Homo sapiens: one gene and its partners. The protein of the gene in region 2 purifies or fractionates together with the protein of the main gene of each other region. This does not show direct contact. Each region holds a gene or a part of one and is shown on either strand. Other genes may lie near its edges.

Evidence for each region.
Region 1: the proteins of COPS7B (region 2) and RAB18 purify together in Homo sapiens (affinity purification with western blotting, with the first as the bait; one study listed by BioGRID). This does not show direct contact.
Region 3: the proteins of COPS7B (region 2) and KNSTRN purify together in Homo sapiens (affinity purification with mass spectrometry; 2 studies listed by BioGRID and IntAct, with this or other methods). This does not show direct contact.
Region 4: the proteins of COPS7B (region 2) and BTBD2 purify together in Homo sapiens (affinity purification with mass spectrometry; one large-scale study listed by BioGRID and IntAct). This does not show direct contact.

The regions. Positions count from the first base shown.
Region 1 is NC_000010.11:27,538,804-27,542,303, reverse strand, and holds the end of RAB18 (ras-related protein Rab-18), read right to left. Parts: 3' UTR 65-3,500; downstream 1-64. UniProt on the Homo sapiens protein: The small GTPases Rab are key regulators of intracellular membrane trafficking, from the formation of transport vesicles to their fusion with membranes.
Region 2 is NC_000002.12:231,785,102-231,789,244, forward strand, and holds the start of COPS7B (COP9 signalosome complex subunit 7b), read left to right. Parts: upstream 1-1,343; 5' UTR 1,344-1,437; intron 1,438-3,453; 5' UTR 3,454-3,469; coding exon 3,470-3,631; intron 3,632-3,637; exon of another isoform or gene 3,638-4,143. UniProt on the Homo sapiens protein: Component of the COP9 signalosome complex (CSN), a complex involved in various cellular and developmental processes.
Region 3 is NC_000015.10:40,389,221-40,392,720, reverse strand, and holds part of KNSTRN (small kinetochore-associated protein), read right to left. Parts: intron 3,216-3,500; coding exon 3,110-3,215; intron 2,886-3,109; coding exon 2,792-2,885; intron 1,229-2,791; coding exon 1,167-1,228; intron 773-1,166; coding exon 698-772; intron 1-697. UniProt on the Homo sapiens protein: Essential component of the mitotic spindle required for faithful chromosome segregation and progression into anaphase.
Region 4 is NC_000019.10:1,991,715-1,995,214, forward strand, and holds part of BTBD2 (BTB/POZ domain-containing protein 2), read right to left. Parts: intron 1,463-3,500; coding exon 1,306-1,462; intron 343-1,305; coding exon of another isoform or gene 163-342; intron 1-162.

The DNA of each region.
Region 1 (3,500 bases), on a different chromosome or scaffold from region 2:
AAAAACACACACATTCTCACACTACTTATATTTGGTTGCAAGAAAAAAGAAAATCCAAGTCAAATTGCCTTCAACAAAAAAGGAATTTATTGGCTCACATAAGTGAAAGCTGAGAAATAGATCTCAATTCAGGTCCAATTTGATCCAGAAGTTCCCAAGGGCTCCAATAGACTCCCTCTCACCCTGGTACTGCCTCAGGCTGGTTCCTTTATATTAGAAAAACGAGCTGCAGCAAGTTCAGAATGTGACTCCTCCCAGCACACTATCTCCAACAAGATGTCTTCAATTGCTCCTGAAAAAGCCTAGGCAAACATCTTTATCTCAGTAGTCTGGTCTGGGTCAGGTGCCTACCCCTGAACCATTGCTACTGGGGAAGTGGGGCACTGCTAAAAGGTAACTGGGTTAATCTAGAAAGCCGAGGGTGTGACAATGCCACCCAAACCACATGCCAATTGTTTGCAGGGGTGGGGGTGGGGGTGGTATGGTGGGAGAAGGAAGTAGGTGCTGGATCGGGCAGCCACAGCACACACAAACAAGAAATTAAAGTCAGTCACAAACATATCCAATAAAATATTAAAAGTACTCAAGCTCACTAGTAATCAAAGAAACACAAAAAAAACTACGTAATTTGTTGCTTCTCCGGTTAAAAAAGAGGAAAAAAAAAAAAAGCAAGAAATAACCTGCATGAGAAACGGTAAAGGGGACAAGACTGAGAACAGGCATGAACACACGACTATTCAAAATATGTGTGTAGGTGTGTGTGTGCTTACATTCATTGAACAGCTTTAACTAAGGGGCACTTAAGCAAACTTTATACCACAATCAGAAACATGACTGATTCCCAAGTATGAAACAATAAGCTAGCAACAAAACAGTAAAATGTAAAGCCCCATCACAGTAGTCCTCCAGCATGATAGATGTTCCCAACTGAGGAGAGAAAAATTAAAAAAAAAAAAAAAGACCTGGGTGATTCTATATTCCTTAGCCCCTAGTCTTGACTTAGCTAGCCTGTCTATGTCTATTTATTCTCGTCTTTCAACAGTTTAGGCAAAACCCAGGGTGAAGTCTATATAGTTGAGTATACACGGCAGGGTCGGAGTCAGAACAATGTCTTCTGAAAGCTGAATAACGTTTTTACCCCTATACTTAACTAGGGAAATACAGGAAAGACAAAATAACTTCCTAAGTATTACTAGTGAAATGTACCCCCAAGAAAGAGAAGCATAATGCTTGAATATGGAGAGGATCTCTGATCTATAATACCTGAAGAATTGTTGAGTTCATTTGAAAAAAATACACAGAAAAAATATGTATTAAGTTGTACTTAAAGACACTATGGTTATTAGGTAAGTCTGTGCCAACTCACAGGCAGAACAAGTACTGGTGTAAGAAGGATTCTTTTATGAGCTATGGTGCTAGCCCCACCCTTAGTAGAGAATCATGTCTCTTGACCATGCAAGCTACGATGAATCAAAATCAAGTCTATTTCCACAACACTCAGCTAGAATGTCAACACCAAGTATGAGTTTATGGATGGCAATCAAATACATGAAATGAAAACATCACCCCAGATTTCAGTTTTGAGCAAATTACTGTTTCCATAATTTCTATTCTCACATAAAAAGTGAAGGTACCATAAGTCCCCTAACTTTGTACCTTTTCTAAGTCAGGATTTTCAGTCCACTCTGAGCAGGTGAAAGAAATAAGACCACCTACTCCACTACCTTAACTTTTATGTCACATGACTTATGAGGTAGGTTTACATCATGGGATTTACTCTATAACCCAAAAGTGTGAAATACTTCTATTACATATAACAAAAGAGTGATAAAGAAATAGTGGAACTGCCTTAACTTGGTTGTGTTACAAAAAGCTGGTAACTAACTACCCATTGTAAAATGAGCGATGGTGAAGAGTATGGGCTCAGAAGTAAAAATGCCATGACTGGAATCCAGCTCAGTGACTGAGTAGCTATGTGATCTTTGGGGGTTACCTAACATACCTACATTGTGTTGTCCTCACCTTTAAAATGGGCATAATAGGAGTACTAATCTCTTAAGGTTGCTGTGAGGTTTAATGAGATAATTCAGCACTTAGAAAGGCATCTGGCACCAAGGAAGCTTTCAATAAATATTAACTATTACTCAGAAATTGAATAGTTTTTTATTTGTTTGGGTCAATCTCAGTACTACTAGAACTCAAAATACTATATTCTAATTGTTCTAATTTGTACCATCTGCAAAAGACCCTTTAAGACTGCTTCAATGATTCTGAAAAGAATTAACAAAACCCTGTTACTAGGTGCCTGACCTTAGATATTACAACTGTTTCATTTACAAAACCTCCACTACAAAACACTAAGCTTGCAACAAAACAACAAAATGAAAGCCACATAATTTGAGTAACACAATAGTACATATTCTTCAGCTGATGAGAGTAATAGGGAAATGTATATACTTCCTACACAAATGCATCTAGGGAAAGCAGGCTATATTTATTCAAGAACTAGAAAAAGGTTACAATATAAATCTATCAAACAAAATTCATTTTTGTTATATTCAAGTAACTCATATATATTCAAATTTAGACCAAATCAAGACAACAATCCAATACACAGATTATTATATAGCTCAAGGAGCAAAAAACAACAGTCTTGTCAATACAGACTCTACATAAATACACAAATCTCAAGTTTTAATATAACATGAACAAATCACAAGTACATGTGTTAGTGTTCTTTCTCCAAATTTCTAGTAGTAAATCTTGTATATTTAGTAAAAGCATATAGAATGTATAAAACCTTCAACCACATGTAATGTAGACTAGGAAGTGTAAATCAAGTAGAATGTGAGGTTTTTATATGTAAAGATGTACATTTCAGAAAGAACCCAACATGAAGTAAATTAACAAACATATTGCAAAGGTGGTCACTCACAAAAATGCTTATCATTTGCAATTGTATACAGAGAACAAACTGCCCAGAAATTAATACTGGAATCTTACTGAGGGGTATTATAGTAACCAACCTTAAAGGACAAATAACTTATTTGGGGGGTTAAAATAGCAGAGATCAGTGTAAATTAAATAACACATGAATGAAAAAAATCTACAATATACAATAGCAAGAGGTGAGAAAACTGAATACTGTGAAAAAGATTTATTAGTCTGTACAAGTTGGTTTTGATGAACTACTGGTTACTTGTTAAGTAAATTGTCAAGATTTTCATTGTGACAGTATTTTCCCTCACACATCAGAATCTGGAAGCAATATGCCTTTTTCAAATTATCACTTAGTGTTTTTTTTCCCCACCCCTCAAAACACAGAAATAGGTTTTTGAATATCAACTAGCCATTATGGAAGCCGTAAGATACAGATATTCATCAACATTACACAAGCTACAGTTAAGGTACCTGGACAAACACTACCAACATTTATGAAAAAAGATGTTGGTTTTAAAAGTGTATGAGGAGTTACAATAAACACACTATTCATGTCCTCC
Region 2 (4,143 bases):
CGCCCGGCAACACAATCTCTTATCTAGAATAAATCGGTCACCTCACCGGAGGTTTTCCCTGCCTCCAATTCTCTCCACATCCAATCCACTCCTATAGCACCTAGCATGATCACTCTAACAAGGCAATTATTCATACCTCTCCTTAGCTTAAAAAGCCTAAGTAATTCCCCAGTACCTGGCATGTGGATTCCAAGACCTTTGATGACCTGACTCCAGCTCTGTACCCCTCATTTCTCACTCTTGAAAACCCTGGGGTCAAACCACTCTGGGTTTCTTTTTGACATCAGTATATGCTGCACAGTGCGAGCCTCTGTGACAATGGGCACTACCCCCCTTTTTTCCCCTTTTTGTCTGTTTTTTTCTTCCCCAACCTCTTCTGTGCTTCCAAAGTGTTGTCATATCTTCCCCATAGCATTTAACACATTGGAGCTTTTGAGGGTAAGAGCTTTGTTTTATCTTCATATAACTTTTCAGGACATAATAGGTGCTAAAGAAATGTTTTTGAATAAATGAATGAGTTGGTTGATGCTAGGCTCCTTTGCATTTGTCCTGTCTCATTTCTGCATTCTAACGCACGATAGGCAAATAGGGCTGTTTTTCTCTCTCATTTTCAAGACCTGAAAGACTGTGGTGTATACAGGAATCAGTTTAAGTGTTCAATTATGTGGCATTTCTTAGCCATCTTCCCAGGGGAGTTGGTAAGCACCAGATGCAACTCTATCAATGACATTTTGGTCATAGAACCATTGTTGGCTTAACCCATCTCTTGCTTATTTTAAAACATTTTCTGAATAGAGGTCAAGAACATCGTCTTCGGCCTCAGATAGCCTGGGTTTGACAAAGATAGCAAGCTTTGTCACTTTCTGACTTTTGGACTTAGTTAACTCACCTGAAAAATGGGAACAATAATACAAGCCACAGTTATGAGAATTCAACGAGATAATGCATGTACAGCACCTGGCACATGGTAAAACGCTCAATAAGTGGTAGTTAGTAGGCTTAATGTATCTCGGTGCCCAGGGGTAGCGCAGTAGCCATGGGGAGCTCCTGAGAGAGAAAGCACAGCCTAAGGGGAGGATTTGGGGCCCGGGATGGCGATGGCGACGGTTGGGCTGCAGTACCGTCTAGGCCGCATTCCTCTCCTTGGGCCCCTAGCCACCCCCTCCCCGCCTGGTTCCCGGGCTGCAGACTCTTCCCCGCCCCCTCGCTCCCACTTCCCCACCGGAGGTCGAAGGCTGTAAACGCGGCGGGTGGAACCTTGTGTGGGCGGAACGCGAGTGCAGCGGTGGGAGGCTTCCGGGGGAGCTGCACGGGCGACGGGTCGGCGGAGACAGAAAAGCGCCGGACGCCGGGGTGATCATGGACGCTTGACAACCTGCGGGCAGGCGCCGGGAGGCCGAGCCAGCGACTAAGAGGACCGAGAGGTGGCGTGGACAGGTAGGAGCTAGCGAGAGGGTGGGCCGAGCGGGGCCGGCGCTCCAGGCTCGGCCAGACGATCCGGCTTAGAGCCCGCCGCCAAGGAAGCCCGCGGCCGTGCCCGCCCCGCCCCCGCCTTGGGGAGCGCGTCCCGCGGCTCCTCACTCCACGCCTGCGGCCCTGCTTGGAGCATACCGCCCACCGTGAGGTCTGCTGCAGCTTGCGACCCTCAGCTTCAGTGCTGTGGCTGCTTTCGCTCTCCCATCCCCAAAGGCTGCTCGTTTGCCCCTCTCCAGTCCATCCAAATAGCGCCCTCCCCTGACGGGAATTTATCTCCGCTCTGTGCCTAGCCTCTGGCCCTCCCACTCCAGAAGAAAGCGACTGTCTCCGTCTCTTTACATTCTCTGCGCCCACAGGCTTTGCTCCTTAAGCCGAGATTTTTTGAAGGGACAGAAGTTTCTCTCCATTTCCCTACCCCCTCTCCACCCCCACCTCCTAACATTGGGACTCTTTGCAGAGATCCCCATCTGTCTCTTCACACGGGTCCTCTTGGAAGGGCCTTTTCGCTCCTTCCCTCTTTACCGTCACCGACCCTCCTTTCTTCCCTACTCCTTTCCTTCTTCCTCGTATCCTCTCCCCTTCTCTTTTCCCTTTCCCTTCCGTCCTCAAACTCGTTGTTCCCCAGCACTTCATTGTTTTTCCTGTGTCTGGCCGGACCTTCTTAGGTAACCCTAAGTGAGGCGACATACTTGTTTCTCTAATACTGTGAAAGGGCAACTAATCTGTGTGCCTGCCAACACAAAACTTAGTTCCTCTTGCACCAAACTATTCTTCAAATTGTTCTTTGCTGCACTCTACTATACCGTTTTTCGTTCATTTTGTCACGCTGCTCTAATATGTATCATTCTTGGAGGAGAAATCTTACCTGGAACTCCTGTACACTCAGCGTGTAATTAGATTACACAATTGAGGGACCCTCCTGTACTTAATGTCTTCGGAGCGCTGATACAATATTTTCACTGTTTTCCCAAATCTTTTTATCGTTTTCTTGAGGTTTTTTTTTTTTTACACATTCTGAAGTCACGTTTGGTTAAAATGTCGTATCAGGAGGAGGCCGAATACAGGGATTTTTCCCCATGGTCTTACACAGCATGTATGTTCTTAGTTTGAATATATCGCTACTTTTCTTTCAAAATGATGTCTCCCTTTATCTGTGCTTACTTGACTTGATTAAATGAGACATCTTTCTTGTCTGGTTTTTTGTTTTCCTTATCTGTCTGGCTGTAGATTGGATTCTGATGACACAGTGGGAGCTGTAACTGATTGCTTTTGCTTACATCCGGTGCCTCTGTGTATAGGCAGTATCCTCCATTTCTTAACCAGAATGTATAAACGAGGTGGATATAAAACAGCTGCTGAGAAACTCATGTGTTTTTCTTTAGGTCCTGGTCAGGTTTAAGGACTTAGAAGGTGTTGCCTCTGGAGGAGGGACAGGTGGAAGTGAAATGACTTTTACAAAGTGTGTTTCAAACACCAGAATTTAGGACAAGATCCTTTTAACTCCAGGTTGAACTCCACCCATCTCATAAGGTGGTCATTGCATCTGGACTCAGGAACTGTTTTTTTTTTTTTTTTTTTTGAGACAGTCTCGCTCTGTTGCCCAGGCTGGAGTGCAGTGGCACAATCTTGGCTCACTGCAACCTCCACCTCCTGGGTTCAAGCAATTCTTGTGCCACAGCCTCCCAAGTAACTGGGACTACAGGTATCTGCCACCAGCCTAGCTAATTTTTGTATTTTTAGTAGAGATGGGGTTTTGCCATGTTGCCCATACTGGTCTCGAACTCCTCACCTCAGGTGATCCACCCGCCTCAGCCTCCCAAAGTGCTGGGATTACAGGCATGAGCCACTGCACTTGTCCTGTTTTTTCTTTATCAACACTATAAAAGTAAAGTATTCTGGTGTTTGATTCAGCACTGAATAGGCACAGACTTTGCAAAGGAGAAGGAAGAATGACTGACACAATTTTCTTTTGGACAGATTTCAAGGCCAGAGAATGGCAGGGGAACAGAAACCCTCAAGTAATCTCCTGGAGCAGTTTATTTTACTAGCCAAAGGTACCAGTGGCTCAGCCCTCACTGCTCTCATAAGCCAGGTCTTAGAGGCTCCCGGAGTGTATGTCTTTGGAGAACTTCTGGAGCTGGCCAACGTGCAGGAGGTAAGAACGGTTTGCAAACAATTTCTCTTTATTCTAAGACTCTGTAATTCTCCAGGTTTCCAAAGAATTTCAGTGCTGAAGTATTGTGAACCTGTGAGGTACCCTATTGTGAGACAGATGGGAATTGGTGGGGCAGAGGGAGAGATTGAGAGAATATCCTTGGCTCCTTTTATCCAGTATTTTTATCTTACCTTGGGTAAAATTAGATTGTTGCTAATAATAACCTAAAAGATAGTAAAAAAGTCAAATTGATCCTGATAAATTAGAAAAGTAGTGCTGTAAGCATGGGCTGTTTAATAGGAGTAGATTCATGCATTCTTAAGGACCAGAAACCTCCAGTGCAATATCGATAAGGAAGATTGGTCAGGGACACACAGCAGAAACATACTGCTATTGAACATAAGATGGACATGAATAGGAGTGTATTGTTCTTGAGGAAAAGGGCAGTGTTGTGCTAAATGTGTTAGATGTGTTAGATATGACATGAAAAGCTAGGACATAGTTCATTTTAC
Region 3 (3,500 bases), on a different chromosome or scaffold from region 2:
GAAAATCGCTTGAACCCGGGAGGCGGAGGTTGCAGTGAGCCGAGATCACGCCATTGCACTCCAGCCTGGGGGACAACAGTGAGACTTTATCTCCTTGCCCTCCTGGGCCCAAGTGGTCTTCTTGCCTCAGCCTCCTGAGCAGCTGGGACTACAGGTATGTACCACCACGCCTGGCTATTTTCTAAATTTTATTTTGTAGAGATGGGGTCTTGTTATGTTTCCCAGGCTGGTCTCAAACTCCTGGCTTCAAGTAATCCTTCCACCTCAGCCTCCCAAAGTGCTGGGATTATAGGCGTGAGCCACCATGCCTGGCTGATTTCTTAGTTTTGACAAATGTACCAGGATAATGTAAGATGTTACTATTGGGGGTGGAGGAGGAAGTGCATCAAGAAGAATAGCTAATGGATGCTGGGCTCAATACCTAGGTGATGGGATGATCTGTGCAGCTAACCACCATGGCACACGTTTACCTGTGTAACAAGCCTACACACCCTGTACGTGTACCCCTGAACTTAAAAGTTGGAAAAAAAAAAACACGTTACTATCAGGGTAAATTTTCTGTATTATCTTTGTAACTTTCCTATAAATCTAAAATTATTTAGAAAGTTTATTAAAAATAAATAGAAAAACAGAAAAGACCCCACTATAAATCTACCTATCATGGTAGGAAATGGTCAGGGTGATGTCTGCCTCTCACCTGTAACTCCTCCATCTGCTTTTTGGCTGTTTCGTTAAAAAGCTTCAGCTCCTCTTGCAAAGTTTCTAACAGCAACTAAGAGGAAAGCACAATGTAGTAAACAAATCTTCATATAAAACCAGACTTGCATTAGATGATGGCTAACATCCTTTCCACACAGTTCTCAACAAAGGAGTCAGGAGAGAAATTTGATAAAGTATAGAACAGAAGAACGAGAAAGCTCTCTCTACAGGTTTACCTATTATGTGTTTTAAATTTTCAATTCAGACTCACTTATATTTGTAAGCACAAAGCTACCTTTCAAGTAAAATATGCTATTTTGAGTACACATCCCATTTCTCTTTTCTAGCATCACAGATAATCAAAGGCTGTTTCTTGGAGTTTATGGAATATATAGCAGAGACCTTCTTAGATTTACAGAGCCCCACAGTCACTCAGCCCTTGCGCCCTTTCACACCCATGCCCTCACCATAGAGTCCATGTGATCAGTAGTGGATTCTTGTCGTGATGCCAGGGTCTCACTGCCTAAAGCTGATGGATACAACAAAGTCAATCTCACTTAGGGAACTACACACCCTAAACAAAAGAAAATAAAAACCCTCCGTGGACAAGTACAGAAATATTCATGAGGGGAATTTCTCTTAAGTGTCTCATCCTGGACTTTCTCCTAAGTTTTCACCTTGGCAGGGTCACCCATATCTGCCCTGCAAAACTGTATTTTATCTCCTTTCAATCTAGGTTTTGATATGGCCAAAAATTCGGTATACTTTCTCCTTAGGTCAGTGGACAATTTGTCCAAAGGAAATGTATAGGTTGGATTTTTTTTGGTTTTGTTCACAATTCACAAAGCTATTTTTAAGAGCCTTTCAGGCCTTAAAAAATTATTACTTTCGGTAATATCACATGCATGTAATAAACTAAAATCATACAAAATATTTATGGTGTCGGATGTGGTGGTGCACACCTGTAGTCCCAGCTATTTGGGAGGATTGCTTGAGCCCAGGAGTTGGAGGCCAGCCTGGGCAACATAGCGAGATCCCATCTCAAAAAAATAAACAATTTTAAATTTAAAAACATATATATTTATGGTGACTATAAAGAATATCCTAGGCTGGGCATGGTAACTCATGTCTGTAAACCCAGCACTCTGGGAGGCCGAGACAGGCAGATCACTTGAGGTCAGGAGTTTGAGACCAGCCTGACCAACATGGCAAAACCCCATCTCTACTAAAAATACAAAAATTAGCTGGGTGTGGTGGTACACGCCTGTAATCCCAGCTACTCAGGAGGCTGAGGCAGGAGAATCACTTGAACCCAGGAGGAGGAGGTTTCAGTGAGCCGAAATCACACCTCTGCACTTCAGCTTGGGCAATGGAATGAGACTTCATCTCAAAAAAAAAAAAAGAATATCCTCAACTGTAACCTAAAGATTAACCAGTAACATTCAAAGTCAGTATTCCTTAATACAAAAAGGCCTGGGCCCCTTTCCTGGGCATTCTCTGGCTCTTTGACTCAGTCTGAGGCCCTCTTACAGTCTTTGGGCAATTCCTTCTTCTGCTCTCTTTGCTACAGATACTGCTTTCTGGGGGACAGGGTCAGAATAGTAGTCATATTTTAGTCACTGTAATTCTGATGATTAACCAGGTTTAAGAATGCTTGAAATAGTATTTTCTTTCTCTTCCCATTTGGGATTACTAGTATGCTTGAAAGGAAGAGCATGTTCAAACAAAATGTTCCTTTCAAGCACACTAGTAACTTTCCCAAATAGGAAGAGACAGAAAATGTTCTCCCTTGAAAGGAACAAAGTGTTTCTCATCTATTTGCAAGGTCATACCTGTTGGCACTAAATGAATGGCATAAAGTGTTCAGGTAAGAAAGAGATAACCCTCTCTCTATAATCATCTGAAATCCTATTGGCCAGGCAAAAATCAACATCACATGAAAACAAACAGAAGCTTTCCAAAATCTTTAGGGCTTTATGAAAGTAACCCCTGCACATACTGGGCCAGCTGATGCCATGCTGCCAAGATCAACCCCGGAAGGGGCACATGCACCAATTCCTTCAAAGGAGGCTAGCTGTGTGCTGTCTCTTACCTGGATCAAGGCCCTTGCTCTCCAAAATTGCCAAACAGTTGTCCCGAAACTTCTCCAGCAGCTCTACCTTCTGGGTCAGGTCCTTCAGCTCTCCCTATTGGAGCACAGCACAGACAGATCAGGAATTGTCCAACTCCCTAGGGGTGGTTGCCCTTTCTTGCCCTTGCTCTTGGACAGCCATAGCAAAAGCCTGGCTTTTTTTTTCTGCCCTTGGGCATCTGTGCATTAACAAGCTTGCTCATCCAAGGGGCCACCCATCAGGATTCCATGTGGATCGCCCAGTGGCAGCTGGTAACAGAGCTCTGGTGGGTCTCTTACCTGAGTTTCAGTCAACTTCTGGTGCAACTGCTTGTTGACGGCTTCTAACAGCTGGTTCTTGTCCTTGAGCTCTTCCTCTGATTTTTGCTTACTCAGTGGTTTGTAGCTGTAATAATAGTTGTACTTACATGAAAAGATAAAAGGGTTAACAGTATGGCCCACACCAGGTGCGGTAGCTCATGCCTGTAATCCCAGCACTTTGGGAGGCTGAGGCAGGCAGATCACCTGAGGTCGGGAAATCAAGACCAGCCTGACCAAGATAAGAGAAACCCTGTCTCTACTAAAATTACAAAAGATTAGTCAGGCGTGGTGGCGCATGCCTGTAATCCCAGGTATTTGGGAGGCTGAGGCAGGATAATCGCTTGAACCCAGGAGGCGGAGGTTGTGGTGA
Region 4 (3,500 bases), on a different chromosome or scaffold from region 2:
CACCCCCGACCAGGAGCTCACGGCTCCCAAGCGGCCGTCCACCCGTACTGGCCCCACGTCCTCTCAGCCTCCCTGGCCTGCACGACCTCCCCAGCCCCCGCCCTTTGGGCTGCACAGAGCCCAACTGGGGTCCCCTGAGATCCCTGGCCCTGCTCTGTCTACCTGACATTTCCTTAGAGAGAGAGAGAAAGTTCTCTCTGGTTTTTTTTTTTCTTTTTTTTTAGCCAGGCGCGGTGGTGGGGGCCTGTAATCCCAGCTACTGTGGAGGCTGAGGCAGGAGAATCGCTTGAACGCTGGAGGCGGAGGTTGCAGTGAGCTGAGATCGTGCCATTGCACTCCAGCCTGGGCAACAAGAGAAACCCCGTCTCAAAAAAAAATTATTTTACTTTTTTTTTAGAGACAGGGTCTCACTCTGTCACTCAGGCTGGAGTGCAGTGGCGCCATCTCCACTCACTGCAGCCTCAACCTCCCGGGCTCAGGCAATCTTCCTGCTTTGGTCCCCCAAGTAGTTGAGATTCCAGACATGCACCAGCGTGCTTGGCTAATTTATGAAATATTTTTTTTTAGTAGAGATGAGGTTTCACCATGTTGGCCAGGCTGGTCTCAAACTCCTGACCTCTGGTGATCTGCCTGTCTCAGCCTCCCAAAATGCTGGGATTACAGGCATGAACCACAGTGCCCGGCCTGAATCTTTTTTTAATTTTTTGTAGAAACGGGGTCTCTCTATGTTGCCTAGGCTGGTCTAGAACTCCGGGCCTCAAGCAATCCTCCCTACTTGGCCTCCCAAAGTGCTGGGGTTACAGGCGTGAGCCACCGCACCCTGCCAATAATTTTTTGAAGTATCACGGAAAAGTCCAAAACACATCTTTTTTTTTCAGGTGGAGTCTCGCTCTGTCATGCACGCTGGAGTGCAGTGGTGCGATCTCGGCTCACTGCAACCTCCACCTCCCAGGTTCATGCAATTCTCCTGCCTCAGCCTCCCAAGTAGCTGGAATTACAGGTGCCCGCCACCACGCCCGGCTCTTTTTTGTGTTTTTAGTAGAGATAGGATTTCGCCATGTTGGCCAGGCTGGTCTGGAACGCCTGAGCTCAGGTGATCTGCCCGCCTCGGCCTCCCAAAGTGCCGGGATTACAGGCGTGAGCAACCACGCCCGGCCCAAAACACATTTTACTACCAGGCAGGAGCCTGCTGCCTCCCGGGCCCGCCCCCGGCCCCGCCTCCGCCTCCAGCCTCGGTCCGCCCCACCCCGGCCCCGCCTCCAGCCAGGCCTGGCCCCGCCCCCGCCTCGTACCGGCCCCGCCCACCTGCGTGAGCAGCATGAAGGCGTTGTCGGCTCGCAGGTTCTTCTTCAGGAACTCCACGCAATGGGCCTCGAGCGCTGGCACCGCGTACTTCTTGGCGGTGTATAGCGTGGTCATCACCGTCTCCGGGCCAATCTGCACCTCGTCCGAGTAGAGAAACCTGCAGAAGCAACGCGGGTGGCCGTGAGGTGGGACCGCCATGCCCGCCCCCAGGGGAGAGCGTCAGGGGACCACTCAGACCGTTAGACTCGGCCACCGGCCCTTGAGCTGGCAGGACCCAAACACCCACATCAGGTTCCCCGAGGAACCTTCCAGAATTAGCCCCTGTCCGTTGCCCTCTGACATAGGGACACGACTTGGCAAGGTGGTCACCCATGAAAACGAGCAAGAGGCTGAACCCATCTACACAGCACACACCCGGAAGCGTCTATATGGCCTGTCTTGTTCTGCCCGGGATGCCCCAGGAGAGGGCACTGGGAGCTGGGTGTCTCCTTCTTGGGCACCTTTTCCATGAGGAACTGTTGGTTCCCCACCTCGGGCACCACCGAAAACCTCAACCACTTCTGGGTGGATCATAGAACCCAACACGCTAATTAGGATCATGGATAATCATGGACGCTATTACCACCTGCCAGCGAGGGGCCCACACGACACTGAATACAGATCAGAAGTTGGGCCGATCAAAAATAGAAGCACAGGCTGGGCCTGGTGGTTCACGCCTGTAACCCCAGCACTTTGGGAGGCTGAGGCGGGCAGATCGCCTGAGGTCAAGAAGTGCCAGACCAGCCTGGCCAACATGGTGAAACCCCGTCTCTACTAAAAATACAAAAATTAGCTGGGCGTGGTGGTGGGCGCCTGTAGTCCCAGCTACTTGGGAGGCTGAGGCAAGAGAATCGCTTGAACCTGGGAGGCAGATGTTGCAGTGAGCTGAGATCTCGCCACTGCACTCCAGCCTGGAGACAGAGCGAGAATCCGTCTCAAAAAAAAAAAAAAAAAAAAAAAAAAAAAAAAGCAGCACAGGCCGGCCTGGTGGTTCACGCCTGTAATCCCAGCACTTTGAGAGGCCGAGGCGGGCAGATCACTTGAGGCCAGGAGTTAGAGACTAGCCTGGCCGACATGGCAAAATCCCCCTCTACTAAAAATACAAAAATTAGCCAGGTGTGGTGGCAGACACCTGTAATCCCAGCTACCTGGGAGGCTGAGGCACAAGAATCGCTTGAACCCAGGAGGCGGAGGTTGCAGTGAGCCAAGATCGTATCACTGCACTGCAGCCTGGGAGACAGAGTGAGACTCCCTCTCAAAAAAAAAATAAAAAATAAAAAAATGTCTCCAGCCTGGAGCAGTGGCTCACATCTGTAATCCCAGCACGTTGGGAGGCAGAGGCGAGAGGATTGCCTGAGACCAGGAGTTGGAAACCAGTGTGGGCATGGTGAGATCCTGTCTCTAAACACATTTTTTTTTCAGCTGGGCACAGTGGCTCAGGCCTGTAATCCCAGCACTTTGGGAGGCTGAGGCAGGCGGATCATGAGATCAGGAGATCGAGACCATCCTGGCCAACATGATGAAACCGGGTCTCTACTAAAAATACAAAAATTAGCCAGGCGTGGTGGCGTGTGCCTGTAGTCCCAGGTACTCAGGAGGCTGATGCAGGAGAATCACTTGAACCCGGGAGGCAGAGGTTGCAGTGAGCCAGGATCGTGCCACTGCACTCCAGCCATGGTGGCAGAGCGCTACTCCATCTCAAAAAATGAAAAAATAAAAAAATATTTTTTTTCTCTCCCAGCCTGTGGGTGGCATTTCCACTCTGCCGGTATTGTCCTTTGAGGTATACATTTTTAACATTTTCCCTAAGTCCAATGTCTTTGTTTATTCTTTTCTTGGCTGTGTCTTTGGTGTCATATCCAAGTAATCATGGTCAAACCCAATGTCATGAAGATTTGATTCTGGTTTTTCTTTTTTTGTTGTTGTTGAGACAGAGTCTCGCTCTGTCGCCCAAGCTGGAGTGCAGTGGCGCAGTCTTGGTTTACTAAAACCTCTGCCTCCCAGGTTCAAGCGATTCTCCTGCCTCAGCTTCCTGAGTAGCTGGGGTTACAGGTGCCTGCTACCATGCCCAGCTAATTTTTGTATGTTTGTAGAGATGGGGTTTTGCCTTGTTGCCCAGGCTGGTCTCCAACTCCTGACCTCAGGTGATCCACCCA